Homo sapiens: one gene and its partners. The protein of the gene in region 7 purifies or fractionates together with the protein of the main gene of each other region. This does not show direct contact. Each region holds a gene or a part of one and is shown on either strand. Other genes may lie near its edges. The genes, in order: PIGR, RAB5A, RAB5B, RTN4, GNB1, RAB2A and SCAMP2.

What was found.
Region 1: the proteins of SCAMP2 (region 7) and PIGR purify together in Homo sapiens (affinity purification with mass spectrometry; one large-scale study listed by BioGRID and IntAct). This does not show direct contact.
Region 2: the proteins of SCAMP2 (region 7) and RAB5A purify together in Homo sapiens (affinity purification with mass spectrometry; one large-scale study listed by BioGRID and IntAct). This does not show direct contact.
Region 3: the proteins of SCAMP2 (region 7) and RAB5B purify together in Homo sapiens (affinity purification with mass spectrometry; one large-scale study listed by BioGRID and IntAct). This does not show direct contact.
Region 4: the proteins of SCAMP2 (region 7) and RTN4 purify together in Homo sapiens (affinity purification with mass spectrometry; 2 studies listed by BioGRID and IntAct, with this or other methods). This does not show direct contact.
Region 5: the proteins of SCAMP2 (region 7) and GNB1 purify together in Homo sapiens (affinity purification with mass spectrometry; one large-scale study listed by BioGRID and IntAct). This does not show direct contact.
Region 6: the proteins of SCAMP2 (region 7) and RAB2A purify together in Homo sapiens (affinity purification with mass spectrometry; one large-scale study listed by BioGRID and IntAct). This does not show direct contact.

Annotation. Positions count from the first base shown.
Region 1 is NC_000001.11:206,943,252-206,948,241, forward strand, and holds the start of PIGR (polymeric immunoglobulin receptor precursor), read right to left. Parts: upstream 3,216-4,990; 5' UTR 3,085-3,215; exon of another isoform or gene 3,017-3,084; intron 1-3,016.
Region 2 is NC_000003.12:19,981,328-19,985,792, reverse strand, and holds the end of RAB5A (ras-related protein Rab-5A), read right to left. Parts: intron 2,086-4,465; coding exon 1,970-2,085; 3' UTR 618-1,969; downstream 1-617. Other genes in the region: PP2D1 (protein phosphatase 2C-like domain-containing protein 1), read left to right, coding at 1-413. UniProt on the Homo sapiens protein: The small GTPases Rab are key regulators of intracellular membrane trafficking, from the formation of transport vesicles to their fusion with membranes.
Region 3 is NC_000012.12:55,976,517-55,980,981, reverse strand, and holds part of RAB5B (ras-related protein Rab-5B), read right to left. Parts: intron 1,611-4,465; coding exon of another isoform or gene 1,508-1,610; intron 1-1,507. UniProt on the Homo sapiens protein: The small GTPases Rab are key regulators of intracellular membrane trafficking, from the formation of transport vesicles to their fusion with membranes.
Region 4 is NC_000002.12:54,973,937-54,977,782, forward strand, and holds part of RTN4 (reticulon-4), read right to left. Parts: intron 829-3,846; coding exon 759-828; intron 1-758. UniProt on the Homo sapiens protein: Required to induce the formation and stabilization of endoplasmic reticulum (ER) tubules. They regulate membrane morphogenesis in the ER by promoting tubular ER production.
Region 5 is NC_000001.11:1,803,741-1,808,205, reverse strand, and holds part of GNB1 (guanine nucleotide-binding protein G(I)/G(S)/G(T) subunit beta-1), read left to right. Parts: intron 1-1,667; coding exon 1,668-1,731; intron 1,732-3,624; coding exon 3,625-3,787; intron 3,788-4,465. UniProt on the Homo sapiens protein: Guanine nucleotide-binding proteins (G proteins) are involved as a modulator or transducer in various transmembrane signaling systems.
Region 6 is NC_000008.11:60,620,687-60,624,730, reverse strand, and holds the end of RAB2A (ras-related protein Rab-2A), read right to left. Parts: coding exon 3,962-4,044; 3' UTR 1,087-3,961; downstream 1-1,086.
Region 7 is NC_000015.10:74,845,925-74,849,957, forward strand, and holds part of SCAMP2 (secretory carrier-associated membrane protein 2), read right to left. Parts: intron 2,778-4,033; coding exon 2,676-2,777; intron 1-2,675. UniProt on the Homo sapiens protein: Functions in post-Golgi recycling pathways. Acts as a recycling carrier to the cell surface.

The DNA of each region.
Region 1 (4,990 bases), on a different chromosome or scaffold from region 7:
ATGACACAGGTTGGAAATCTAAGGGTTATAGGGATTCTCGACCCCAAGACCCACAGCAGAATCCTAATTTGAGGTCACTACCCCATTATCACTCTTTAAATGAGCAAAGGGACCTGCTTTATTGGGTTTTATATATATGATATTATATCATGCATGAGGGCACGTTTTCTGGTCCTTAAACTAGCAGTTGTTTTTTCACTGCTGAGGCTAGGATGTGCTAGATCATTTTCAGTTTACTAAGTTAGTATCCCAACATATGTGTAACATATGTCCCCACAATTGTGGATTGGGGCAGGAGTGTAAGCTGTGCTGAAGGATAGTTTTTCTTTTTATAAAATGTATTTAACTAGCTCCTGTTCAGTTAAAGTGACTGCACTTCATCTCTCATGGTGTGGAGTCCAAACCTTTGTCCATCTAATCTCAGGTTTCCCTCTTTTTCAGAGGAAGAAAGGTCCCCTGGACTTGGTATGAGAGTAGAAGTCTGCTTGCTGGACATCCTTTGAAGATAGAGAGATGGAGAGTGAGCTACTTAGGTTGGACTCATGTGGATAAGAGAGGAGACAAGCACTATGGGCTAGGCTAGAAGAACGTACGCTGAGTCCTTTCCAGGTGCTTTACATGTGTTAATGTGTTCCATTTTTACAGCCACCATAGGAGATGGGACAAAATGGGCAACCCCATTTCATGAGTGAGATAATTGAGGCACAGAGAGGTGAGACATTTGCCCAAGGTTGCACAGTTGGTAAGTGACTTAGATGGGATTCTAGATCAAGAGCATAGGCCCTTAGCCACTCTGCTTTACCTCAGAGGGTCTTCCTATTGAGAGGAAGCAGTGGAGAGAGGAAGAAGCAGGATATTCAATCTTAGCGAACTGAGAATTTGTTCAGTTCTTTCCTCTCTGCCTTTCACGGAAAAGGCAGTTCTTATAAGGAGACACCTGGGGCCGGGCGTAGTGGCTCACGCCTGTAATCCCAGCACCTTGGGAGGCTGAGGTGGGTGGATCATGAGGTCAGGAGTTCAAGACCAGCCTGGCCAACATGGTAAAACCCCATCTGTACTAAAAGTGCAAAAGTTAGCTGGGTGTGGTGGCATGGGTCTGTAATCCCAGCTACTCAGGAGGCTGAGGTAGGAGAATCGCTGGAACCCAGGAGGTGGAGGTTGCAGTAAGCCAAGATCACGCCACTGCATTCCAGCCTGGGTGACAGGGCAAGATTCCATCTCAAAAAAATAAAAAATTAAAAAATGAAGAGACACCTGGACCCAGAGGTAGGTGCCAACAGAGAAATTTCTTCCTGGAAAATATTAGCTGCTATTTATTTAGCACCTACCATGTGTAGGATATGTTACATAACCATGGGTATAACCAGGCATGTTGACGCCAAAGCCTCTTTCCACTCCACCATACTGTGTCGATGCCAGTGACATTGGGACTCCAGCCCCAGCCCCTCCAGAGAGAGGGCAAGACATAGATGAAGGTCTCTGCTGAGCACAATGCATAGGTATTTTTTTTTAAGTTGGATAGTTTGCTTTTTAGGTGACATCAAAATGTCCTCATGACCATATCAAAATGGCTGTACCAAAACCTCATCGTTCAAACTTGCTGGTGACTTCACACCACTCACATAGACTCACGGTGTCTTGGTTTCCTCAACTAGGGAATGACATCACAAAACCAACCCTGCCTACCTCCTCGTTGGTATCAAGGGAGAATGAGACGAAGGTGTGAAAGCCCAGGGCAAGTGGGTTTACTAAATGGAAGCCTGTGTGACCCCATTTTTTATCACCTAAAGCCACAGAGGTCTAGCGGCACTAGGAGATAAGCAGAGAGAGTTGCTTTCCTGACTCCTGGCTCAGTGTTCTTTCTGCTACTTTAGCACATCCAGGGGCGGGACAAGGATGGAGAGAGAATTCCAGATCTGGCTCTGGGAAGACCTATGTCCAGGCACCAGACAGCTGCCTTCTACCTAAACCCCTGAAATTGGCATCTCCTCTCCAGATGTTAAAGGATCTATAATTCCCCTAGTGAAGGGGGAAAGTGATGGCACAAAATAGGAGCAGCTTCAATGGCCCCAGGCACTGTGGCAATTGCACAAAGGGAACTGGGGGTCAGGGATGGAGCTTGACCCGCTGCTGCCCTTGTGCCGGACGGTCCCACTGCTGGCTTGGGCTGCTGTCAGGATGGGCAAAGGGAGGGGAAGCCCATGTCTGAGATCTGCTGGCTGCAGAGCCAGGAGGAACAGCAGGAGTTGATCATGCTGCCTGTGGGGCTCAGCTCCACCTCACTCAGTGATCCCGTGAGGACCTCTTTTTTTCTACCTCTAGGAAGGGCAGGATGATGCGATGACACACATTTATGTCTCCCATGGCAGGAATCTGCTAGAGCAAAGCGAGGTGGAATTGCAAAGGATTTCAGAGGTTCTTGGAAGCCCAGAAAAAAGGAGCTGAACATGCCTTTGCCAGAAAGCCACAAGTGGGAAACCTCAAAGAATGGAAGAGGACTTGCTAGGTGCCATACTTTATGCGCACTATCTAATTCCAGGTCTGTTGGTGTTCAATAAATCCTTGATTAATTAAACTAAACTGAAAAATATGAAACAATTCCTATTTCATTCTAGAGGTTACAAAGCTATTTCACCTGTGTTTTCTCATTTGAACCCACATTGACCCTGAATGATAGGTGTTATTTCTATCTTTGTTTTACAGATTAAGAAACTGAGGATCAGAGAGGTTAGGTGGCTTGTCTAAGGCCACACAGTTAATCAACTATGAGGAGTTAGGAAATCCAGGCACAGACCAAGCTGAAAGAGTAGAATTACATATGCTGACCACAGAGGTCCCTTCCCACCTGCTGATATTTCTCAGAAAAGGATGGGGGGCTTCCACACACGTGCATCCCTACTCGTCCCACTGCGATATGCACGCTTACTCCCCAGCCACACACAGTCACACAGTCTGCCTCCTTGTCCTTGTCACCCCACTATCTAGGAGACTGGGAGTTGGGAATGGAGGGGGTTACCTGAGCCATCGTCCCGAGCCCTTTCCAGATAGCATCCCGTCTGGGGATCCCAGAGCAGTAACACTTACTTTTAGCCACTTCCTTCTCTCCCGTTGATCTGACTTCAGGGACACAGCCTGCTGGCCAGTTGGTAACCCCTGCCTCTCTAGGAGCTACTGGCAGGGCACTGGACGCTGCTGCCAAAACTGAAACTCTGCTCAGTGTTTGACCCACACCTGGGCTCTTAAAGGGCCACTCTCCCACAGGCACCGTGGCCAGCCAGGGTCATGTGACTCTCACAGATCCCTTGCTTTCCTTTCATTTTGGCCTTCCTGGCTGGCTCCATTTGGTTTCCTTTGACCTTGGGGAGACTCTGTTACTTGGGAATCCTCCATCGTTGCAGCTTCAGGATGAGGGACAGAATGTCAAGCGTGAAGATGCTGTTCTGTCGCTTTCTAGCTGCAAGACCTTTGGCAAGTCACCTTCCTATTTCTTTTCATCTGGAAAAGAGGGATGGTAATACCAAATCTACAGGTAGAGGATATAGCCCGGTATTAGCTCTAAAATACCTGGCCCAATGCTTGATTTGAAGTTGACATCATCTGATGGGGCACAGGTGGCAGGAGTGGCTGTCGTAGTCCTTGGTCTCATATCCCCAGTTGCTCTGGAATCCCCTCCGACTCCCTAGGTTACTTAGCCTGGACAAAAATGCCCCTTATACACCTCCTGCCAAGCCCCTTTTACCAGTCCCAGAGCTCCAGGAACTGGCAGGACTGTGGCCCTTCCTGTTTCACTCCCCAGAGTCATGAAAGACTCGCTGCTTCTGGGCTCCCCTGAACATGGCTGACCTCAGAGTCTTGTTAGGACCCGGGCTCGGCTCCATAGCAAGGACGGTGCTGACCTGCTGAGCTGAAGTAGCACCTCCTTCCCTATCTGTTAGTCCATGCCAAAACATGACCTGGTTGGGACTCCCAGGTGTTCCCCAAATGATCGTGGCAGTCCTGTGACAAAAGTGAAGCCCACTCCCCAACACACACGTGTATGGCCCCCCGACCCCTCACTGCAAACCCCCACAGAAATGCTGCCCATCCTACCTGTGCAGGGCTGACCCAGGCTCTCCCTACAGAGTCCTATAGGCCAAACACCAGAAGGGGAAGGAAAAATAGAGAAATAGAGCCCTGGAGAAACACAAGGCAGCCAGAGCCCTGGGTCTTATTTTAGCTAACCACTGGCTCACTTGTGGGTGTTAACACACAATCACAGATTTCAATGGCAAGCAAAAAAACCCCATAATTTCTTTATGTAGCTTAATTTCTCTCTTTTTTTGTGGTTTGCAAACTTAGATTTTCTTTTTTTATTTTGTTTTAGGTTCCAGGATTACATGTGCAGAACGTGCAGGTTTGTGACACAGGTAAACGTGTGCCATGATGGTTTCCTGCACCCGTCAACCCACCACCTAGGTATTAAGCCCCACATGCATTAGCTATTAGTTCTAATGCTCTCCCTCCCCCCACCCCCCCCAACAGGCCCGGATGTGTAATGTTCCCCTCCCTGTGTCCGTGTGTTCTCATTGTTCAGCTCCCATTTATGAGTGAGAACATGTGGTGTTTGGTTTTCTGTTCCTGTGTTAGTTTGATGAGGATGATGGCTTCCAGATGTAGCTTAATTTCAAACCCTAAACCCATAATCTGACTGATAAAAGAAAACAAGTTACCTAGTCACTTCTAGGCAAGCTCAGCCCAATTCAGTGATCTCTCAGTCACTTCACTCCAGATTTAAAATTTAGCCTCATTATGGAGTTCCCTTCCTTTTTGTCTCCCTTCTCTCCCCTGGGGTCCAGTCTGGAGAGAGCGGTCTTGGGTGAGGGGGTGGTCAATGTTACTGCTGAGGCAGTGAAAAGGGGTGGCCCATTATTATTTTGGTCTTGCTTTGTCACGATGCTGTGCTGGCCTTGGGCTCCAGAAGGAAATAGTTTTGTCTACTGAGATGTGACTT
Region 2 (4,465 bases), on a different chromosome or scaffold from region 7:
CTCTGCTTTTTTCAACCAGTGAACCAAACCTTACTAAATCACAGAGTAATATCCACGTATTGTTTCAGTATAAATCTGTATCTGAAGTACGTGTGTCAACTACAAATTCCAAAGAAAATTTATCCGATTCAAACTATTCTAAATACTGTATTTATAACCCTGAGAATGTAGAAACATTTCCAGCAGAAACGACTCATCGTAAACCTTGCAGTGAAAAAGTAACTGACAGACCAACTAGTGTAAATGATGTGGCAACAAATGAAAAAGAATCAGACACTAAGAGTTTCTATGAAGGCGCAGCTGAGTATGTTAGCCATGAACTTGTAAATGCTGCTTTACTGGCTGGCTCCAGAGACAACATTACAGTTATGGTAATATTTCTCAATGGAAGTGAATATCAGCTTCTGACATAAAAAAATAAAGTTCCAATTATCCAGAGCACCAAAATATAAAGTGATTCTTCAATGATCCAGCTATTAGGATGATTCATCAATACCATGCAAATAATTTTATGAACATAGTAAAGAAAATATAAAAGCGGATACTAGGTCATATAGTATCATTTATATATATTCACTGTTTTATGCCAAAAAAAAGGAAAAGAGAAAAGCCGATACTTGCTTTTTATACCACTTTATTCCAACCTGAGCACCTCAATATAAAACTAAACACTGGTGAACCGTTTTCCTAATTCTGCATTATCATAAATGTACAAGTTCTCCTAGCAGTCCAACACTTAAATAGATTAAATCATCTCTGACACATGGTAGCTTTCATATAATGAAAATACCTAAAATAATTAGTGCAATATACTGAACTGATCAAAATAAAATGAACTTTGGAAAGGAAGGCTGCAAGATTGTTACTAACATATTGCAATACTTTATGTTACAAATTACGGGTACATTGTTTATTATGGTTCTAGCCATGGAGGAACAACTGAAGCCCCTTCCTGTCAAAGGGGGAGAGAGAAATAATTAGCTGTTTTAGTAACAGTACATTTTGTATGCTTTTAAGCAACTCTTAAATATTACAGAAAAGTAATACAGATATGGAGACTACAATGCAGTACCCTATTTACAGTACAGCTGAAGATCGAATTTAAAATAATCAAGTTTGAATATACATAATTGTTAGTGCATTGACTATATTATGTCAAAAGGGAACAAAAGCCCCCTCCCCACCCCAAACAACAAAACCTGTGTAATGGCCAGCGGTGATTAATTAGAAATCACAGACACCTGGTTTATTTCATTTTTGTTAAAGAACTCACATGTTTGAAAGGAACACTGACCATTAAGGTGCATTTATTAGTTCTCAAAATTCCTAAAACAAGATGGGGTTGCATTTGATTTTTACCCCATTTAAAAAAAAAAAACCAGACTGGGTATAATTAAGATACCATTAATACTCTTCCCCACCCCTGACCTTGTATATGTGGGATTATTTTCTTGTGGTTAATTTATTAAAATGTGGAATGTACATTTTAAATACAGGTACCAGGAGAAATGAACATTTGCCTGAATACTATGGCTAAGCATCATAAATAACTTTAGAATCTCCTTCTAAACAAAGAATGTTTTTGAAAAGCCCAAATTAGTAAGTTCCAATTTTTTTTTCACAGGTGACTACTGTACCAGTGTGGAGAAATGGGCTGGTTAACTGTGTGGGCCCAGACAGTCATTTGTCTATATTCCTAGTGATGAGAAATTATTCCCCCTAACCTTCCAATGAAACAAGTGTCCACATAGTTCTCATTTTTCCCTATTGTTGAAACATTAGTGAGAGGGACCCATGCATGTTATTAAAAATTAAGTTCAAAACACTTAAAATAATTCTGTATTAGAAACTTGACTCTATCATAAGTCTCTTCTTTTGGAAGTCATACTGGGCTGGTTAAATGCTCCAATTCCATTGTTATTAACATTTAGGAAGCAGAAGACTATTCCAGCTAGTTCAAACTAGAGGTTTAGTTACTACAACACTGATTCCTGGTTGGTTGTGTGGGTTCGGTAAGGTCTACTCCTCTTCCTCTGGCAGAATTTGCTCCTGGATTTTGTGGTTCATTCTTTGGCAATTTTTTAGCTGAAAGAAAATGATCAAATAAATAGAATATTTGAATACTCATATTAATATCAGTTTCACCTGCTTATCTATAATTTTTCTTTCCAGTTAGGTTACCCCCAAAGTATCATATAACCATATGTTCATTCTTTTCAAATGTTTACTGAGTATTGAATGCCAAAATATTGGTTGCTGTCTTAGGGAGTTTGATTTCTGGGGTAATTGTGTTGGGGGAACGGTAGATGGGGACTGGTTGTAGATACAATTAAAACTTAAGCCTAACTAGTGCTTTATGTAATTCTCTATACCGATTCACTCAATAATACCAGAAAAGTTCTATTTTATTTTATACTCATTATTACTTCTTTTTTTTTTTTTTTTTTGAGATGTAGTCTCACTCTGTCACCCAGGCTCACCTAGGCTGGAGTGCAATGGCGTGATCTCAGTTCACTGCAACCTCCACCTCCTGGGTTCAAGTGATTCTCGTGCCTTGGCCTCTCGAGTAGCTGGAATTACAGGCATGCCCCACCACACCCAGCTAATTTTTGTTTTTTAGTAGAGACGGGGTTTCACCATGTTGCCCAGGCTGATCTTGAACTCCTGACCTCAGGTGATCCACCTGCTTCAGCCTCCCAAAGTGTTGGGATTATAGGCGTGAGCCATGGCACCTGGCCTCATTATTACTTCTATTAAATAAAATCTAAGTCAATAAAGATGATGGCCAGCCAGTAAGTTTATAAAGAAGCTCAGCTCATATCAGCGTTCTCTAGACTGCCACAAACATTTTTTAGAACAAGTCAGGATACAAATACCTTTGCAATCATCACCCCAACAAAACTTGTCCTCTACTGTGCAACTAATTATCACCCCGAATTGTGATAGATCATATCTACTATTTCCTTCCTGGCTTCCACAGCCTTTGGCCTTAAAACATCTATATACATGCTCTCTTTTTTTTTTTTTTTAAGAGACAAGGTCTCACTCTGTCACCCAGGATTAAGTGCAGTGGTATGATCATGGCTTACTGCAGTCCTGAGTTCCAAAGTGAGATGGGGTCTCACTTTGTTGCCTAGGCTGGTCTTGAACTCTTGGGCTCAAGCAACTCTTCCGCCTCAGACTCCCACGTGCTGGGACTGCAAGCATGAGCCACCATGCTCGACCGCTTAGTTTTTAAAAGAGAAACTTACACCTTGCAGAGTAACCATCAGCTGCCTTCAAATAAAGGGGAAATAGATAAGAGTTGCATTTTTGAGAATGAACAATTATAATCTATGCTTTGGGCAAAGGAAGGACAGATAACACCCAAGTTAGATGCCTGCATGTGTCAAAACTTAGCATACTGGAGGAAACATACTCACACACAAACATACCTTAGCATGCTAGTGGAAATACACTTAGACACAAACATATCCACATACATTTATACATACTCAACACTTCGTTGTGATCTTAGTTTGAATGTAGCCTGCAGCCATACTTCTTTTCATTTTGGAGACAAGGTCTCCCTCTGTAGCCCAAGTTAGAGTGTGGTGCATCAATCATAGCTCACTGCAGCCTTGAACTCCTGGGCTCAAAAGATCCTCCCACCTCAGCTTTCCAAGTAGCTGAGACTACAGGGTGTGCACCACCATGCCTGGCTTTTTTTTTTTGGTAGAGATAGGGTCTTGCTCTGTTGCCCAGGCTGGTCTAGAACTCCTGGCCTTGAAGATCATCCCACCGTGGCCTCTCAAAGTATTGGGATTATAGGAGTGAGCCACCTCAACCAACCTCATTTTCTCCTTTTATGGGCTGATGAATCCTAATCTGACTGACCAGTAGCTGTACCTAATCCAGATAGAATTATCCTGAAGACCTCATCTCCAAAAACTATTTCTTAATTTTATTTGAGTCCGATGAGTGTGGCTTGTCAAATTCAGACAACACTCTCAACCAGCAGTTACGGCTTTACCTCTGCCAAGCTCTATACAGCTAGTGGCTGTTCTCTGGAGTGTGCTTCCCACTGATTAAAAAAACTTACCTGCTGGATATACAGATGCTCCTTGACTTACAATGGGGCTACATCCTGATATATCCATCCTAAGTTGTATGTTTTTGATTTATGATTTTTTTTTTTTTGAGGCGGAGTCTCGCTCTGTCACCCAGGCTGGAGTGCAGTGGCACGATCTCAGCTCGCTACAACCTCTGCCTCCTGGGTTCAAGCAATTCCCCTGCCTCAGCCTCCCAAGTAGCTGGGACTACAGGCACATACCACCACACCCAGCTAATTTTTCTATTTTTAGTAGAGACGGGGTTTCGACATGTTGGCCCGGCTTGTTTCCTGACCAACTCCTGACCTCAGGTGATAGCCCGCCTTGGCCTCCCAAAGTGCTGGGATTACAGGTAGTGAGCCACTGCGCCCAGC
Region 3 (4,465 bases), on a different chromosome or scaffold from region 7:
GGGTGGGCAAGACTTGTCTGATCATTCGCTTTGCAGAGGACAACTTCAACAACACTTACATCTCCACCATCGGAATTGATTTCAAGATCCGCACTGTGGATATAGAGGGGAAGAAGATCAAACTACAAGTCTGGGACACAGCTGGCCAAGAGCGGTTCAAGACAATAACTACTGCCTACTACCGTGGAGCCATGGGCATTATCCTAGCATACGACATCACGGATGAGAAATCTTTCGAGAATATTCAGAACTGGATGAAAAGCATCATGGAGAATGCCTCAGCTGGGGTGGAGCACCTCTTGCTAGGGAACAAATGTGACATGGAGGCCAAGAGGAAGGTGCAGAAGGAGCAGGCCGATAAGTTGGCTCGAGAGCATGGAATCCGATTTTTCGAAACTAGTGCTAAATCCAGTATGAATGTGGATGAGGCTTTTAGTTCCCTGGCCCGGGACATCTTGCTCAAGTCAGGAGGCCGGAGATCAGGAAACGGCAACAAGCCTCCCAGTACTGACCTGAAAACTTGTGACATAAAGAACACCAACAAGTGCTCCCTGAGCTGAGGACCCTTTCTTGCCTCCCCACCCCGGAAGCTGAACCTGAGGGAGACAACAGCAGAGGGAGTGAGCAGGGGAGAAATAGCAGAGGGGCTTGGAGGGACACATAGGTAGATGGTAAAGAGAATGAGGAGAAAAAGGAGAAAAGGGAAAAGCAGAAAGGAAAAGAAGGAAAAGAGAGGAAGGGAGAAGGGAGAGGAATGAATTGAGGAAGTGAACGAAGGCAAGGAGGTAGGAAGAGAGGGAGGAGGAAAGGAAGGAGAGATGCCTCAGGCTTCAGACCTTACCTGGGTTTTCAGGGCAAACATAAATGTAAATACACTGATTTATTCTGTTACTAGATCAGGTTTTAGGGTCCTGCAAAGGGCTAGCTCGGCACTACACTAGGGAATTTGCTCCTGTTCTGTCACTTGTCATGGTCTTTCTTGGTATTAAAGGCCACCATTTGCACAAAAAATAAATAAATAAATAAAAAATAAAATAAAATTAGTCAACTTGTCAAGTGTTACCATACAGCCAACTGCTAAGCAGTAAATGTAGGACTCCTAGTCAGGTACTCCTGCCTCTTATACCACTATACTTCTTAAGGAAGCAGGAAATGCTGAACTCTAAAGAGAACACCAGGACAGGATCGAGAGCTTAGACTGGATAGAGTTCCTGCCTCTATTCAGTTTAGGTAAGTACTTGCTTTGGGACTAAAAACAAATTAAGAAGACCCAGGCCTTCCTTGGCAACTGGGATGCAGTCCCATATCTTTCTGACAGAAGAATTAATTCATCACTACTCTTTTCTAGAAGGTCTATGACCAAACCCTGCCAGGACAGTTGAAATAGAAGCAATTCAATGAGAGGCAATAGGAAAACAAGCGGTAACTTTTGCAGAATTTGGTGGGCCCTGCGATTAATGTGAGAGTTTTACTAAGTAGGGAAGATAGAGCAGAAACCAGTAAATACCTTCATCTCCCTCTCCAACTCTGTTTAAACCCAAGTCACCAAAATCTTGAAATGAGAGTTCTACCACTTGGCTCAGCTCTTCATTTTGTTGATCCAGTGTTACCTAATGAGTCATTGGATTAAATGAGATTCCTTCCACATCTCGCACCCTTTCCCTTATATTTCTCCAAGAGGCAAAAAGCATACTTACCTCTTATCAGTATGGTAGTACAAACTCCCTATTATTGACCTAGGTAAGATTGGAATGCCCGTCCCTACTTGTCTGCCTAGCAAAATTCTATATATCTCATAAGACCAAGCTCAAATGTTACTTCAGTGAAATTACATAATCACCCTCTCCCCCACAGAATTAATCATTCTCTAGAGGCCCGTAGGGTCCCACAGTATTAAGACTGTATTTCTGGCCAGGTGTGGTGGCGCACACCTGTAATCCCAGCACTTTGAGAGGCCAAGGCAGATGGATCACTGGAGGTTAGGAGTTCGAGACCAGCCTGGCCAATATGGTGAAACCCCGTCTCTACTAAAAATACAAAAATTAGCTGGGCATGTTGGCACAGGCTTGTAATCCCAGTTACCCAGGAGGCTGAGACATGAGAATTGCTTGAGCCCGGGAGGCGGAGGTTGCAGTGAGCACAGATTGCACCACTGTACTCCAGCCTGGACAGCAAAGCAAGAATCCGTCTCAAAAAAAAAAAAAAAAGACTGTATTTCTATAATAGTATGTATCACATTATCACAGTATATAAATTGTGTCTGTCTGCTCTGCTAAACTATGAACTTCTTTAAAAGTGGGAGTTTATCTTAAAATCTTCAGAGCACAGCATGCTGCCTGATCCCTAGTAGGTGCTCATTAAATGCTCCCTAAATTAAGGCTAAGTAATTCTACTTCTCTCCCCCAATCAACTCCTCCCTTTCTGTACCATCTGGACAGATCTTACTCAATTCCATTTGGGTTCTTTTTTTTTTTTCCTGAGACGGAGTCTTGCTCAGTCGCCCAGGCTGGAGTGCAGTGACGCGATCTCGGCTCACTGCAAGCTCTGCCTCCCAGGTTCACGCCATTCTCCTGCTTCAGCCTCCCGAGAAGCTGGGGGACTACAGGCGCCCACCACCACGCCCAGCTAATTTTTTGTATTTTGTTTAGTAGAGACGGGGTTTCACCGTGTTAGCCAGGATGGTCTCAATCTCCTGACCTCGTGATCCACCCGCCTCAGCCTCCCAAAGTGCTGGGATTACAGGCGCATGCCACCGCACACGGCCCCATTTGGGAATATTTTTAATAGGCCTCAGAATCAATTCTCTCCCTGGCTCCTCTGTGATCTCCCTTGGATGGAGGGCCCCCTTGGGATCTTGCCCACAAGGTACTATTGCAACTCGCATGGGCTAACTGCTTTTCCTGTCACCCGTTACTATGCCTCAGATGGCCTAATCACACCCAATATGTGGCCCTCCCACCCAAACACTGAGGCAACTATAGCTAAAAACAAAGTTCGCTGAATTTTCAGTTGATGTTGAACGGTCAAAAGCTTTGGGCCACTATCTATTAATTCCTGACTTGAGAAACACAAGTTTAAAAAAAGGAGCCATAACACCACAGAACCAGGAGACACTCTGAAAAGGTACCCACTGTCCCTGAACAGAAGCTACAACCTTGCCCAGAAATGTACACATACTTTGTTCACCTGGGTAGCTCCTTATTCAGTTCAGTTACTGTTGAGTCAATGGCTAAATCTTTCCCAAAACGGAAGTGGGAGTATACCATGTAGGGTTTTATGGTATCCTTCCTCCAAGAGGGCTGCTGCATTTCCTTATTATAAGTTCATTGTCTCACACTTTGGTTACCTTCCAATCTGAAATGCTTTAGGATTAGGGAGCAAACTATACGCTTGCTTCTTCTACCCTATGCCTCCTTCTCAGAAGTAAAATTCATACCAATAAGCAATATTTGCTCCCAGGTAAAGTAAGAGTTAGAAGATATGAGGTATGTTATGCAGTAGGGATTGTCCAGGAAAAAAATTTTAAAAGATATGAGGTATGACTTGAAGGGCAATGGGAAAGCTCTCTTCTCCAAATATATTTTTGCAACTCCAGGTCTATGTATGAAATTCCTTATTGATAATTCTACTCCTAAACTCTCTTAGGATGCAAAAAACTGTTGGAAAAATTAGATAGGATTAAAACACACACACACACACGCACACACGGCCAGGCGCGGTGGCTCACTCCTGTAATCCCAGTGCTTTGGGAGGCTGAGGCACGTGGATCACCTGAGGTCAGGAGTTAGAGTCCAGCCTGGCCAACATGGTCAAATCCCGTCTCTACTAATAATACAAAAATTAGCTGGTCGTGGTGGTGCACGCCTGTAATCCCAGCTACTCTGGAGGCTGAGGCAGGAGAATCGCGTGAACCTAGGAGGCAGACGTTGCAGTGAGCCGAGATCATGCCACTGCACTCCAGCCTGGGTGACAAAAGTGAAACTCCGTCTAAAAACACACACACATACTCCTACACAACTGTCTCTAGGACTGGCTTGCAGGTGAGAAAAGTTCCTTGGGGGAAAAAACCGAGGTTTCCAATGGGCGCTGTACAAAGGCTGGGTACAACAGAGGGCTTTTAAAGCTAGTAAGGACAAATTCAATTAATAAGGTGGTAGTATGAAATGCCCCAGCTGTACTCTGACTCTGAGATTTAGAGGAAAACCGATTTCAAATCCAGATAAGCTTGGAGCTTCTCAGATCCCTACAGAAAGACACACACTGTACTCCAGCCTAAGTGACAAAGCAAGACCCTGTCTCTAAAAATAGAAGAAAAGAAAAGAAAGACAAATACAGGGGCCTCTTAGGAGAACCATCATCATCATGGATAAGAAAGGGATAGTCAAGTAATGTGAACATGCAGAGACCATGAACATCCAGAGACCATGAATTTGAGATAAGGGTCTGAAATTCCTTTCTTTAGCAG
Region 4 (3,846 bases), on a different chromosome or scaffold from region 7:
TATTAAACTGGCAACTCAAGATAACCAAGCAGTGTTCCTAATGAATGAATAAAAACATAAGGATCTCTGGATGCATCTGCTGTTGAGGAGCCACTCCAGAGGAATGAATGAACTGTGTGAGGCTGCAGTTATTAGAGCTAGGAACCATTTCTAGCTTCAAATCATATCACAGTGAGATTTCATAAAATAAAGGTATCCCTGGTTAGATTTATGACTGCACCATCATATAAAGCCACCCTTTATCTGGTTTATCACTGTTTGTTAGTAGGAGCTGTCTTCAGCAACTAAGGTAGCATTTCAATAAACCGGGAAGCAGTATCACCAACTTATTTAAAGAGAATACAACCTCAAACTTATTTTGAGATGGAGTTTCACTCTTGTTGCCCAACCTGGAGTGCAATGGCACGATCTCCGCTCACTGCAACCTCTGCCTCTTGGGCTCAAGTGATTCTCCTGCCTCAGCCTCCGGAGTAGCTGGGATTACAGGCGTGCGCCACCACGCCCAGCTAATTTTTTCTATTTTTAGTAGAAATGGGGTTTCACCATGTTAGCCAGGCTGGTCTCGAACTCCTGGCCCCAGGTGATCCGCCCACCTTGGCCTCCCAAAGTGCTGGGATTACAGGCATGAGCTACCGCGCCCGGCCCACATTTTCATCCCCTACTTTTCATACAATGAGAATATTCTCCACTAAAATGTCTAAGCTCCTGGCACACAATCTTTCCAGCAATTTTTCATCCCAATGGCTTTGTAGACTTACCCAAAATCAGTAGTGTCAGACCATTAAACAAGGCACCAACATAGGTAAATACCCACATCAACACTGCAAACTATAAGAAAATAACATTAGCCCATTATAAACAAAATTCAAGTAAAGTTTCTTAATTATGCTTTCAAAAGCATCCCATCTAAATGCCTACCTACAAAAGGCATACAACTTGAAGACTGGGTAAAGTACCATGAGCAGTTCACTATTAAGTCACGAGTCTCAATTATGAATTTCAAAATCCTAAAATAATTAATAGATTTGACCCATTTTCTCTGGACTACACTACCAAGTAGTTGATTCTGCTGAGATCAGACAATATACCAAGGGTGCATCTTACCCCTCCAGCCCTAACAACATTTACCTTTTAAATGGGAAGACTATAAAGGTGTTATGAGAATTGTCTATTAGAATTGATTTCAAAGTATGAACTAGTTGAGTGCTTGAAGATATATGAGCTGAATAATTCAGACATTAATATCTCAGCTGATAAGCAATAATTGGGCAAAGAGTACTTATCAGGGAAATTACGTTTCAGGTACCAAAAATATCACCTCTAGCCTTTGAAGGATCAGGCACAAAGTCAGTCTGAATTTTGTTAAACATTGGTCATCATCAGTTCCTTTGCTTTCTAATTCAAGGCCTTCATGTGTATGTCTGGCAATCACTTTGACCTACTTAGTAGGTAACAAACATGATGCCACCAGCTACAGTGATTATTTAGGCTTATGTAACACTATAAATGAAAAGGGGAGTAGTAGAGCACCCCCATTATCTAAAGCGGGGATCAGCAAACTTTCTCTGTGAAGAGCCAGACAGTAGAATTTTAGGTTTTATGGGCCACATAGGGTTTGTGTCTCATATTATTCTGTGTCGTTGTCATAACCCTTTAAAAATGTACACCACCCACTCTTAGCTCCCACACTATACAAAAACAGGCCGTGGCCCAAACAAGCAGTGGTTTGCTAACCCTTGATCTAAAGCATATATCTTTCTCCATGTATTAAACGAACTCTGACTGAATGCTTACTGACCATTAATTAAGCAGTCAAACATTAGTAAGCATATTTATTACAGCTTAGGAAGACACTTTGGATGACTCTACCAAGCAACAGTTCTACAAATAGCAACACTCTGGTCACCCTAACTGAATTTAACTAATGTTCAAGTCAGTAAATATCAGGCATTCTTAATATCTGTCAATTGAAAAAAAATTTTTTTAAGCTGCCGTATTCTTAGCAATTGCTATTGGAACCCCTGGTAGAAAGGTTTGAAGGATGACTTCAGTTAGTAAGGCTTTTCTCTCACAGTTTTATAGACTCCTATTGCTGAAGCTAAATATAACTTTTGCACTTGAGCAAGTTTACTATAGAGTAAGAGAGTTATTTTTATCCATCACTATCCACAAGTCTAAAGGGAAAAGTGTTGACCTTCCATATTTTAGAAGAAATTACTCTAGCAACGAAGATGCCCTTAACATGACAGAAGATAGTAACAAACACAAGCTAAAATAACTCCTCATTTGGTCATTACAGTCACTGACAAGGCTTCACTCCAAGTCCACAGGGGAAAAGCCCAAGACTTCACACCTGAGCCACTGTAGGGGCTCAAATGTCACTTGCCTCTTTGAGAACACTTCCTAAAAGCCAGGCTATCCCAAGACAAAGAGAAGAACACAGGGAGGTCTCAAATGTCCTTAGGGCCAGGCAGGTGACATACATGTATGTGAGAGGCTGGGAGAGAACTGAGGCACACAGTGATATGCATTCTTCCTCTCAAAGGGGCACTTACAACCCTGCTCCATACGCTGTGGCCATGCAAATATTCCAGGCCAGTGTTGCCAGAAATGTACACTTTTGTGTGCTATCATATAATTTTTAAATGTTGCAGCTATGTTGAGAAAACTGAATACTTCGGCGGCCCAAAACAGAAATAGTGGTTAAGTGTATTCAGGGAACACACCACCAGGAGAGAAAGGGGTGGCAGCAAGAACTAACCTAGAGAGTAACCATTATTAATGGGAATCCACCACAAATGATGGATTTGTAACATGGCAGGAATAAGGTCAATAAACACTTTAAAGAAGCAAACAGGCTGCTCTCATTTTGGACTTAACAAATTCTACACGATTCCATGGCAAATACTTTGCAACATTATAGCCAATACTTATTAACTGAAGAGGTCAAAGCTTATCTCTCCATTGCACAGTATCGAGACTGGAGGAAGGAGGCCTAAAATGTAATGAAGATCTAACAAATACTTACTGAAAAGGGGCAAGGGCCACATCTGGTTTATCTTTCTTCCAGGGCAATAAGAGAATTAAATTCACTGTGTATAACACACCTGATTAAAGAGCTCTGCAGATTTGTGATGTTTCAATTTGGGGGAAGGGGTATCTTTAAGGCAAACGGTGGGAGAGTGCTTAGTAAGATCTCAGAAATTACTCTGGCAGTTCTGACCATTTCAAAACTTTCCTGCACTCTCAAACTCTAAACTCTACTTGCCCTTCTGTGTCTCCTTCAGATTCATTCATTAGTTGGTAGTTTGGACTCTCTCTATATCCCCAGCCCACTTCCTTCTAATTTTTCTGAGAGCTCAAGAAACCTGAAAGGAAGCTGTCAAAATGTGAATGTTAACAGCTGCCTATGAGCCTGAGAGCTAGATTTTAGTGTTCTTCTGGGTCAGCTATTTCTGGAGCTCAGGCCGTTTTTTTTTTTTTCTTCCTCTCACTTTCAGATTTAAGATTGTGTTCTGGAACATTATAGTTGCGCCTCAATTACAGAAAAGTAAGAACCTCTGCTGAAAATACCTGGTCTTAGTCCCTAAAAAAGTAAAATTATTAGACAGCTTTTTGGGATTTGAGGTTTCAAAAGACAGGAACCTGCTAAGAAGGCTCAGTCAGACTCAATTAGCCCAAAAGCTGAGCCCAGTAGGCATTGTCATATGCTTTTCTTTCATAATTGCGGGTGGGAAGCGAGGGGAGGGAGGATTTATAGTTTAATGCCACAACTTTTTAAAACAGTGATTTTTGCCATACTATTTGACTAGGAAAATGATCGTTGCTCACTCTATAAATACTTGA
Region 5 (4,465 bases), on a different chromosome or scaffold from region 7:
GTGGAGAAACCCCGTCTCTACTAAAAATACAAAATTAGCTGGCTGTGGTGGCGCGTGTCTGTAATCCCAGCTACTTTGGAGGCTGAGGCAGGAAAATTGCTCAAATCTGGGAAGTGGAGGTTGCGGTGAGCCGACGCACCATTGCACTCCAGCCTGGGCAACAAAAGCAAAACTCCATCTCAAAAACAAAAAAAAGAGGCCGGGCGTGGTGGCTCCCGCCTGTAATCCCAGCACTTTGGGAGGCTGAGGTGGGCAGATCACGAGGTCAGGAGATCGAGACCATCCTGGCTAACATGGTGAGACCCTGTCTCTGCTAAAAATACAAAAAGAATTAGCTGGGCGTGATGGTGGGCGCCTGTAGTCCCAGCTACTCGGGAGACTGGGGCAGGAGAATGGCATGAACCCCGGAGGCGGAGCTTGCAGTGAGCCGAGATGGCGCCACTGCACTGCAGCCTGGGCCACGGAGCGAGACTCCGTCTCAAAAAAAAAAAAGAAAAAAAGAAAAAATTCGTGATAGTTACTGGTCTCTGCTCCCGGACCATGCGCAGTGGTGCTGTTGTTTACCAAGCAGGTGAGGAGGGAACGCCTCCTTTGGTTTCTAGGAGACCTTGATTCCAATTTTAGCTCAGTCTGGGAAATTTCATGGGGTATTTTGGGTGAGAAATGTTTCATGAATTTGGAATGTCTAAAAGTGGTTTGTTCTTTCTGTTTGTTTTTTTTTTTTTTTTTTTTTTTTTTTTTTCAGTCAGGATCTCGCTCTGTTGCCCAGGCTAGAGTGCAGTGGCGCAATCTTGGCTCACTGCAACCCCCGCCTCCTGGGTTCAAGCAGTTTTCCCACCTCAGCCTCCTGAGTAGCTAGGATTACAGGCATGCACTACCATACCCAGCTATTTTTTTGTGTTTTTGTAGTGGAGACGGGATTTTACCATGCTAGCATGAGGCCATGCTGGTCTCAAACTCCTGTGATCCACCTACCTTGGCCTCCCAAAGTGTTGGGATTAAAGACATGAGCCTCTAATTTGATTTGTAATGAAACCAAACAGAAACACTTATGAAATGATGTCAGCCTGTCTCAGCTGACAAAGGGAATGGGTGCCAGGGGTGATGTGGCCTGCATTCGGTTGGGGCCAGGCATCTCCACTCTCAACTGTGGTCTGTGACAGTGTTTTTGTTCATGCTTTGAAGTTGGTCTGACATTTAGAGCCTTCCTTTCCTTTCTTTCTTTCTTTCTTGAAACAGAGTCTCACTCTGTTGCCCAGGCTGGTGTCCAGTGGCATGATTGTGGCTCACTGTAACCTCCGCTTCCTAGGTTCAAGCGATTCTTCTGCCTCAGCCTCCCGAGTAGCTGGGATTACAGAGACGCACTACCATGCCCGGCTAATTTTTGTATTTTTAATAGAGACAGGGTTTCGCCATGCTGGCCAGGCTGGTCTTGAACTCCTGACCTCATGTGATCTGCCCACCTCAGCCTCCCAAAGTGCTGGGATTACAAACGTGAGCAACTGTGCCCGACCAGAGATTTTTTTTCTTATAAATAAGTGGCTTTGTCTGAAGCACATGTAACATGGGAGCACATAAGCCACCAGAGTCTGGGTTTTAGTCTGTTGCTCTTGTACACTTTCTGTGTTGTGCGGTACTGATAGGTTTGCTTTTGTCTGTCCCTCCAGGCTTCTCGTCAGTGCCTCGCAGGATGGTAAACTTATCATCTGGGACAGCTACACCACCAACAAGGTAGGGACTGGAGGATTCCCTTCCTTGAAAAACCAACCCAGGAAACAGGGTTTTAAGCTCTGGATTCATTTTGTTAAATCACGTAATACAGGATAGGGAAGGCAGCAGCGGCAAGCTCTGTTTGTTAGTAGTGAAGTTGCGCAGGTGAGATAGAAGCTGAGTCACGTGCCACCTGTCACGGTCTCTTCCTCTGGACCAGGCACAGTTGTGCTGTTGTCCGTCATCTCCTTACCAAGCTGGTGGGAGCTAAGGACCTTCTGTGTTTCTAGGAGACCTCAATTCCAGTTTTAGCAGAGTCTGGGAAGTTTCATGTTTTATTTATAGAGTGCAGAAGTATCACTTTTCATTCAGTTACAAGTTTTTAGAAGAGATCATCTGAAAGACATCATACTTTAAAGTGTAATTTATGTTATTTTCAAGACTTAATCCAAAGTGTATTGTTTTGAATAAAAAGTATTGTCATTGGTCCAAACATGTATGTAAAAGATGTAATTCAGTTTATTTTACTAAAGAATACTAAATGTGTATAAATGATTGCATTAATTACAGCAGATCTAAAACAGTGGGAGAGATGTGGCAGGGTAGATTGTAGGAATGTCCATTTTGGTTATTCCATAAAAATCTTTTGTTTTCGGCTGGGCGCCGTGGCTCACACCTGTAATTCCAGCATTTTGGGAGGCTGAAGCAGGTGGATCACCTGAGGTCAGGAGTTTGAGACCAGCCTAGCCAACATGGTGAAACCTCGTCTCTACTAAAAATACAAAAAATTAGCCAGGAGTGGTGGCAGGCGCCTGTAATCCCAGCTACTCAGGAGGCTGAAGCAGGAGAATTGCTTGAGCCCAGGAGGCAGAGGTTGCAGTGAGCCTAGATCACGCCACTGCACTCAAACCTGGGCAACAAGAGCGAAACTCCATCTCGAAAAAAAAATTTTTTGTTTTCAGATGAGTTCATAGCCATTTGACAGGATAATGCAGTGTTTTCCTTCCAATACGTGTGGGTTTTTTTGTGTTTTTGAGACGGAGCATTGCTCTTACCGCCCTGGCTGGAGTGCAGTGGCGTGATCTCTGCTCACTGCAGCCTCCACCCCCCTGGTTCAAGCGACTCTCCTGCTTCAGCCTCCTTGAGTAGCTGGGATTACAGGCGCCCACCACCACACCCAGCTAATTTTTGTATTTTAGCACAGACAGGGTTTCACCAATTTGAGGCCAGGCTGGTCTCGAATTCCTGACCTCAGGTGATCCACCCGCCTTAGCCTCCCAAAGTGCTAGGATTACAGGCATGAGCCACCGCACCCGGCCTGTTTGTTTTCTTTTGAGACGGAGTCTCGCTCTGTTGCCCAGGCTGGAGTGCAGTGGCGTGATCTCAGCTCACTGCAACCTCCGCCTCCCGGGTTCAAGTGATTCTCCTGCCCCAGTCACTCAAGTAGCTGAAACTACAGGCATGCGCCATCACGCCCAGCTAATTTTGGTATATTTAGTAGAGACATGGGGTTTCACCATGTTGGCTAAGCTGGTCTTGAACTCCTGACCTCAGGTGATCTGCCCGACTTAGCCTCCCAAAGTGCTGGGATTACAGGCGTGAGTGACCGCACCCGGCCTAATGTGGTTTTGATGAGTGGGCAGCACTACTGTTAAGACTCCACCTAATCATAAGTTGTGACTTCAGTAAAACTGGACTGTGTGGATTGAATTTGAATCCCATGTGCAGCACTGGACTTCTCATTAAGTATGCTTCACCTGAGTGGCCACATATGGGAATCGCTCTCTAGATAATTTTGGCTCTTATTTTGTTCTGTTACCTCCTTTGCAGTGAAAGTTGGAGATGAGAAAATCCTGGTGTCAGTGTTGTTTTTGAACATAAAGTTGTTTGCATCATCTGTCTTTCTGTCATTAGGTCCACGCCATCCCTCTGCGCTCCTCCTGGGTCATGACCTGTGCATATGCCCCTTCTGGGAACTATGTGGCCTGCGGTGGCCTGGATAACATTTGCTCCATTTACAATCTGAAAACTCGTGAGGGGAACGTGCGCGTGAGTCGTGAGCTGGCAGGACACACAGGTACCTGTCCTTGTTCATAAGCTTCAAGTGACACAAGCTGTTTACCTGGGGTACATTATATGCTTTGGATACTCACTTTTTATCAATCATTTTTTAATTAATTAATTAATTATTTTTTTTGAGGCGGAGTCTCGCTCTGTCACCCAGGCTGGAGTGCGGTGGCGTGATCTCGGCTCACTGCACGCTCCGCCTCCTGGGTGTTCACGCCATTCCCCTGCCTCAGCCTCCTGAGTAGCTGGGACTACAGGCGCCCACCACCACGCCCAGCTAATTTCTTTTTTGTATTTTTAGTAGAGACAGGGTTTCACCGTGTTAGCCAGGATGGTCTCGATCTCCTAACCTCGTGATCCACCCACCTCAGCCTCCCAAAGTGCTGGGATTACAGGTGTGAGCCACCACACCCAGCCTTTTTTTCTTTTTTTTTTTTTTTTTTTTTAAAGACAGAGTCTCACTATGTCACCCAGGCTGGAGTGCAGCAGCGCATTCTTGGCTCACTGCAACCTCTGATTCCTGGGTTCAAGCGATTCTCCTGCCTCAGCCTCCCAAGTAGCTGGGACCACAGGTGTCCGCCACCACGCCCAGCTAATTTTTGTATTTTTAGTAGAGGCGGGGTTTTGCTGTATTGGCCAGGCTGGTCTTGAACTCCTGACATTGTGATCCGCCTGCCTTAGCCTCCCA
Region 6 (4,044 bases), on a different chromosome or scaffold from region 7:
TTTGTAACTAGTTTCTGGTGTATTCTGGAGATCTTCTTCCTCACCCTTCTTTATAGCTGTGTAGGACTCCACTGTGTGGATGGACACAGTTTAGTGAATCACTATAGTTTATTGAATCACTATAAGTGGAAATGACATATAAGTCATTTCCAATAATTTCTAATTACAACCAATGCTGCAGAAAGTAACCTTGTGCATATGGAGCTTTTGCTTTATTGGAGAATTATCATTTGGGCGGATTCCTACAAGTGGGATTTCTGGGCCAACAGCAAGTGTACATGTAATTTTATTAGGTATTGCCAAGTTCCCCTCCAGAAAGGTAGTTCCAGTTTGCACTTCTACCAACACCACACAAAGGTGCCTCACCAATACAATGTGGCGTTGTATTTTACATTTCTTCCAGTCTCATAGGTGAGAAATGGCATCTGAGCTTTAATTTGCATTTGTTTGAATTTTTAAAAATAAATTTTATTGTGTTTAAAAGTATACCTGTTATGGGATACACATAAATAGAAGGTTACTAGAGTGAAGCAAATTAATGTATCCATCACTCACATTTGAATTAAAAATGCATTTTAGGGACACTTTGTATGTTTTTTGTAAATTGCTCATTTTCCTCCATTTTTCTATCAGGAGTTTGGTGCTTTGTCCTTCAATGTTTAAGAATTGGCCTCATAATTTTGTAAAACTAATTAATACTAATATATAGACTGGCACTTAGTTTTTGGCCAGGCATGGTGGCTCACACCTGTAACCCCAGCACTTTGGGAGGCTGAGGTGGGCAGATGACCTAAGGTCAGGAGTCTGAGACCAGCCTGGCCAACATGGCAAAACCCCGTCTCTACTAAAAATACAAAGTAGCCGGGCGTGGTGGCAGGGACCTCTAATCCCAGCTACTTGGGAGGCTGAGGCATGAGAATCACTTGAACCTGGGGAGGTGGAGGTCACAGTGAGCCAAGACGGCGCCACTGCACTCCAGCCTGGGGGATTAGAGTGAGACCTGTCTCCCAAAATAAACAAAATAAATAAAATGAAGTTCTCTGTCGTGACTTCAACCAAAAAATAATAATACCTAGTACATCCGAATGCAGTATGAGATGATCTACTGTGGCGTTAGGCTTTATTTTAATGTAAACATAAAGCACACATCTAAACTCTGAGAAATACAGGTAGATATGCTGGTTTACCTATTTGTATAGTCAATTCCTGTTTATTATGAAACAGCGTTATCTCTTTGTGTATCTTTTAGCTCATATAGTCAAACCCCATGCTGCCAACCTCAGGACTAAATAAACTGAGATGGGGCTTTACTATCTATGACAGAATAAATGTTTAAGGTGTTGCAAAGCCAGACATGAATCAGTTTTTCTGAGTGATTGGAAACATTTTGGTACGATTTATATCCTAACTCTTTTTGACCATTAGCAGATAAATAGGGACTATTTTCCTGCTAACAGGCTATTTTAAAATATCATTAAAAACAAATTGTATGCAGTTGTATATCCTGTTTCAGTTGTATATCTAATTATATGCCACATTCTTTCAAAAAATTGGCTTTTCATTCAGTTGTCTTAAATTTGCAAGACGAATGGTAACAATGTCTTTATGAAGATCACAATTTTGAATGTTACATGTTGAGTGAGACATTGAAAGCTGTGTTTATTTTTTTCAGTGACTGATTTTCTATGTCCATAGATGCTATAAAAACTGATCGAAGATCAACTAAAAATTCAATTACAATATTACAAATTCAACTGCAGGTACCAATATTACATTATTTGACAGGGATAATAAAATGAGCAAAGACTGGAAATCACAGACAATAACATTGCTTTCTCAATTAACAGAAAGGATTCATAACATATTCCTTAACGGTAGATGTGATTTGTAGAGAATGTGGAAAAGAACTATTGAGAAGTCCACCTGCTGCCCCAGACTGAGGCACATTAGGGTGGTTGTGGGAGGAGTTATATTTGAGGGTTCCATTTTTCCTTAGGGTATTAAAATGCATGTCCTGGTTTGTTGTTTATTTGCCATTAAGTTCTCTTCTTCAAATAAAAGAATTAGGGGAGAAAGTATGGAAAAGAAACGCACTAAACTTCTGGAAAAATTAACAGAAGCTTAAAAATAACAATTTCCAAAGAATCATTCTCTTCTTGGTATAGAGCAGTACCTGTCCTAGTTGCCTTAACTTTTTGTACTCACTGGTAAAGACAGTGATTAGTAAGACCAGTGAATTTGATACAGCCACTTGAAAGAAAAAAAGGCTGTACTACAAATACCCATGAAAACAGATTTTCTCTCACCCTTCCCTCTGCCCTCAAGGAGACAGTTAAAACAAAACTATGACAGCATTTGGTGATTTCCCACAAGAGTACTGTCAAACCTTTGAGAGAGTACTGCTGAATCTTCAGGGAAGACCTGTAGAAAGTTGAAGGCCATGAGCGAAATGAAAGTAGTTAGTTTCAGAGTTAGAACTTCTTTATGCTTTCTTTCAGGCATAAGTGCTTTTGTGCTAGTTCAGGAGAAAACACTTGCTTACACTGCTTACACCATCAACAAAAATAATTTCAGTATGGTGAGATTTGTCGCATTTTAGCAAAATTTTTAAAAAGGGTTGAGTGTTAACCATTCTGACCCTTTTAAAAAACATGCTTAAACCCATGTAAAAGCTGTAAGTGGACTAAAAATACATTAAAAAAGAGGTGGTCATAATAAAAAAAAAGAACACTTTTATACATAGGATTTTATTTTGCACTGCTGTAACAATTTCATTATAGACCAAGGGAGAAAAAGAAAAAAAGGATAAAACCACCACACTGAGTAAATTACTAAAGCTTTTCTACTTTGTAACAGGATTTTCCATCTGATAGATTTATTGTCATATCCCCTTCAAAACAGACAAGATGCTCACCATATTTTAAAGATTATAGAGGTTGCCACTGAAAGAAAAATTTTACACAGTCACTGTACATCAAGGTTGAAAAACTGTCCTGCATGAAAAATATACTTAGAAATCATGTGAATAAAAGAAAAAAGAAAACATTATTGTGTTTAAGGAAAGATTAAAGTCCTCATAATGTGCCATCTAAATGTGGATACTCATTCTTCTTGGAGTCGCTAAGATGTAGAAATTTCTTGCTTCTGCCCTTTTCACTCATTATACTGTGTTTTTTCCCAACAGTATTCATTAAGGCAAACAAATCCCTTTCTGAAGAGGTCTTAAGGAAATTGTGGACAAAGCAAACTTTTGGCATTAAAACAGGTTAACATATACAAAGCCTTTGTAATATACATTAAGCATATTTTTCTTGGACTAGTGACAAGAAAAGATGAACATGCTTGTTAACAATGTCAAAAAGTTTAAAATTCAGTGTCCAAGCAATTCCTAACAATGCTTCTGTAGCTTTAAGCTCTAAACAGTATAGAATTTATGCAAATGCATTAAAGAATTCAAGCTTGGCAAATTACACCCAAGCAGGTTATTAAACTATATATACAGAAAGTAAATGATAAATACAGAATTAAAAGAGTCCTTCTGTTTCCTTATAGCCGTGAAAATTGACAAAGTTTCTGAGGACAGTTCTATAATATTAAACATTAGGTAACCACAGATGTTGGGAAACCTAACTACACAAACCGATTTAAAATACTCAAGATGACTTTGTAGTGTTTAATACAATTCAGTTCGTAGTTAAGGGCACAAGACAACATTTAACAAAAATAATCACATCAATTGACCTAGAAATCAAATGCAAATAGATATGAATACAATCTCCAAAATCTGTCTTTTAAGTGAACATTAACCATTTATTCAAAGTTATACAAGAATTTGACGGATTAAAGTCTTCTGTGACATAAAGCCATTTCAAATAGTTTCATGTCTCAGCTGAGCAGGAGGAGAGGGGGTGAAAGAATAAGTGAGTAGGCCCCGTTGGGCAGCTAGACAGTAAAAACAGACTCAACAGCAGCCGCCCCCAGCCTGCTGTCCTCCCTGATTGCCTGCATGTGTTGCATTGGTAGCAGCATGCTGAGGGCCAATTT
Region 7 (4,033 bases):
AGGCAGGAGGATCGCTTGAGCCCAAGAGTTCAAGACCAACCTGGGCAACAGAGGGAGGCCCTGTCTCCATAAAAAATAAAAAAAGGCCAGGTTCGTGCCTGTAATCCCAGCACTTTGGGAGGCCAAGGAAGGCAGATCACTTGAGGTCAGGAGTTTGAGACCAGCCTGGCCAACATGGAGAAACCTTGCTCTACTAAAAATACAAAAATTAGCTGCGCGTGGTTGCACACGCCTGCAATCCCAGCTACTCGGGAGACTGAGGCAGGAGAATCACTTGAACCTGGAAGGTGCAGGCTGCAGTGAGCCGAGATCATGCCATTGTACTCCAGCCTAGGTGACAGGGCGAGACTCCAACTCAAAAAAAAAAAAAATTAGCTGGCTGTGGTCATACATGCCTATGCTCCCAGCTACTTGGGATGCTGAGGTAGGAGGATCACTTGAGCCCGTGAGGTTCAAGGCTGCAGTGAGCTGTGATCACGCCACGGCACTCCAGCCTGAGCAACAGAGTGAGACCCTGTCTCCAAAAAAAAAAAAAAAAGAAAAGAAAAAAGAAAAAGGGCTGGGCACAGTGGCTCAAGCCCGTAATCCCAACACTTTGGGAGGCCAAGATGGGCGGATCACGAGGTCAGCAGATCGAGACCATCCTGGCTAACACAGTGAAACCCCATCTCTACTAAAAATACAAAAAATGAGCCAGGCATGGTGGCAGGCACCTACATAGTCCCAGTTACTCGGGAGGCTGAGGCAGGAGAATGGCGTGAACCTGGGAGGCGGAGCTTGCAGTGAGCAGAGATCGCGGCACTGCACTCCAGTCTGGGCAACAGAGACTCCATCTCAAAAAATAATTAATTAAAAAGGTAGCACTGGGCCGGGCCTTTTTCTGCTGCTTTGGGGGTGGGGAGTATGGAAAGCGTGGCTGCTCACTCCTGAGGACCCACCTTCTGTGAAGGAGGATCACTGGCCAACTTGCTGTCACCTGTCTGAGCCCCATGTCCTCATCTGTAAAAGGGATATCCTCATATTTCTTGACATCAAAACTTACTACAAAGCTACAGTCACTAAAATAGTGTAGGACTGGCATAAACATAGACATATAGATCAATAGATCAATGGAATAGAACTGAGATTCCAGAAATAAACCCATACACCTATTGTCAGTTAATTTTTTTTTTTTTTTTTTTTTTTGAGATTGAGTCTTGCTCTGTAGCCCAGGCTGGAGAACAGTGGTGTGATCCCGGCTCACTGCAACCTCCACCTCCCGGGTTCAAGTGATTCTTCTGCCTCAGCCTCCCAAGTAGCTGGGATTATAGGCACCTACCAATGCGCCTGGCCAATTTTTGTACTCTCTAGAAACAAGGTTTTGCCATGTTGGCCAGGCTGGTCTCAAACTCCTTCCTGACCTCAGGTGATCCACCCGCCTTGGCCTCCCAAAGTGCTGGGATTACAGGCATGAGCCACCGCACCCAGCCAACTCAAGCCTTCTGATTCCCAGTACAGGTGCAAACGGCAGTCATGAATCACAGCTTTTCTACCAGGGTCTTACTTAGGTAAGGAGTAATGAAATTGGGTCACTGGTCAAAAGGGACCAGATTAACAACAGCAGGGCAAGAAGCATGAGGGGTGGTGGGAGGGCAGCGTGCACTTGTTTGGAGGGCAAGGGGAGGCAACCTTTCTCTCCCCACTGCTCTGGACTTGCCAGCTCTGCCAGAGGGAGGGGACCAAAATAGCACCGCCCTTCCAGGCTCAGGCTGTCAGCCAAGTGCCAGTCTGACCTTTCTGCAATGCTCCCTGTGCACTGGGGCAGAAAGGAAAACATCAGCCATCAGCTTTTCTTTTGAGATTAATTTTGAGCTGAGGACTGAGGTACCCTGGAAACTCAAACCAGCCGTATGCTCAAAGAGGGCAGCCAGAAGAAGCCTGTCCAGGGGAGGTGAGGGAACCGTCTCCTTAAGTTACAAGGCATCTGGAAAAAGTTGCAGCTCAGAGTCTGCAAAGGCCTGGGCATCCATCAGCTTTCAGGAGGGTGTGGCAGGAGAAAAGGAAGAGGCTGCAATCCAGTGCAGGACACTGTCATGGTAGCCTAAAGAGTCAAGCCAAGTTCACCCACAATACCCTGGAAAGTGGAGAGCAAGGGAAGATAGTGTCTTTTTTTTTTTTTTTTGATACAGGATCTCACTCTGTCACCCAGGCTGGTGTCCAGTGGTGCAATCATGGCTCACTGCAGCCTCAACCTCCTGGGCTCAAGTGATCCTCCTGCTTCAGCCTCCCAAGTACCTGGGACTATAGGTGCATGCCACTGCAACAGGCTAATTTTTTTAATTTTTGGTAGAGACAAGGTCTTCCTGTGTTTCCTAGGCTGTCTCGAACTCCTGGGCTTGAGCAATCTGCCTGCCTCGGCCTCCCAAAGTACTGGGATTCCAGGCATGAGCCACTGCACCTGACCAATAGTGAGTGTCTTTTGATGCCTTTAGTATCAAGGAGAAAAAAAAAGTGAGTGGCTACTGATGAAGAACTGGAGAGAAGGCCCAAAGCAGATCCGAGCTGGCCCACTCACCCACTCCCCGCCATGGGAAAAGCAGGGCACTGGCGGGGCTCTGTGGGAGCTAGAAAACAGGGCAAGAGAGGCTGAGTCCCATATCCAAAGCCTAATTCCCTCTGTGATGCCCAGGTCTCACCTGTCCCCCAGGCCAGGGATGCCAACCAACTGGATGATGTAGATCCCTATTTGACAAAAAAATACAAAGAAGAACACAAAGAAGCTGAAAGAGTTGTCGGACCTGTGGAGAGAGAGGGAAATAAGTCACAAGAGGGCTTGGGCTGTGTTCCTCAGCATCCTTACTTGGTGTGACATCCCTCCTCACTAGGAGCCAGGAGGCAGCATGGGCAAGAGACAGAGCTCCAGGGGCCCAGCCATACCACCCGTAAGGACACGCACACACCCCCCACCATAATCAAGAAGAGCTTGCCTTTCACTGCCTTCCAATTTAAGGGGTCAGTGCTTGACCCCTTCCTCAAAGAGCTGATAAAGTTGCTCCCCCAAAGGACAATATAAAGAGCCTAACACTCCTGCAGTGAGCCAAGATCACGCCACTGCACTCCAGCCTGGGTGACAGAGTAAGACTCTGTCTCAGAAAAATAAGTAAATAAAAAACAAAGAACCTAACACTCCATCTCCTGGAGTACTTGCGTTTCATAACAGGCAAGAAAAACTAAGCCAATCTCTTAATAATAAGTAAATCTCTATATAATAAGTAAAATCTCTAATAATAAGTAAAACTAAGTAAATCTCTTAATAATAAAACTGTATGAGGCCAAGAATTTGAGACCAGCCTAGCCAACATGGCAAAACCCTGTCTCTACTAAAAACACAAAAATTAGCTGGGCGTGGTGGTGTGCGCCTGTAATCCCAGCTACTTGGGAGGCTGAGACAGGAGACTCACTTGAACCTGGGAGGCGGAGGTTGCAGTGAGCCGAGACTGCGCCATTGCACTCCAGCCTGGGTAACAGACTGAGATTCTGTCTCAAAAAAACAAAACAGGCTGGGCACGGTGGTTCACACTCGTAATCCCAGCACTTTGGGAGGCCGAGACAGGTGGATCACTTGAGGTCACAAGTTCAAGACCAGCCTGGCCAACATGGGGAAACCCCATCGCTACTAAAAATACAAAAATTAGCCAGGTGTGATTGTGTGTGCCTGTAAGCCCAGCTACTCCGGAGGCTGAGGCAGGAGAATCATTTGAACCCAGGAGGAGGAGGTTGCAGTGAGCCGAGATCGCATCATTGCACTCCAGCCTGGGTGACAGAGCGAGACTCCCTCTCAAAACAAAAACAATAGAACTTGAGGATACGTGGTAACAAAGAACAATGAGAAAAAAACAAAACCTGTACATCTGACTGGAAGAAAAAAATATTTGGGAAACAGGGGACACCAGACAAAACTCTCTCACGAGCTGAGGACTTCCATCTCTGTGTCCTTGAGGGCTAGATCACAGTGAGGGTTCAGGGCCTCCAGTGGTACAGGGATGGTTCAGCC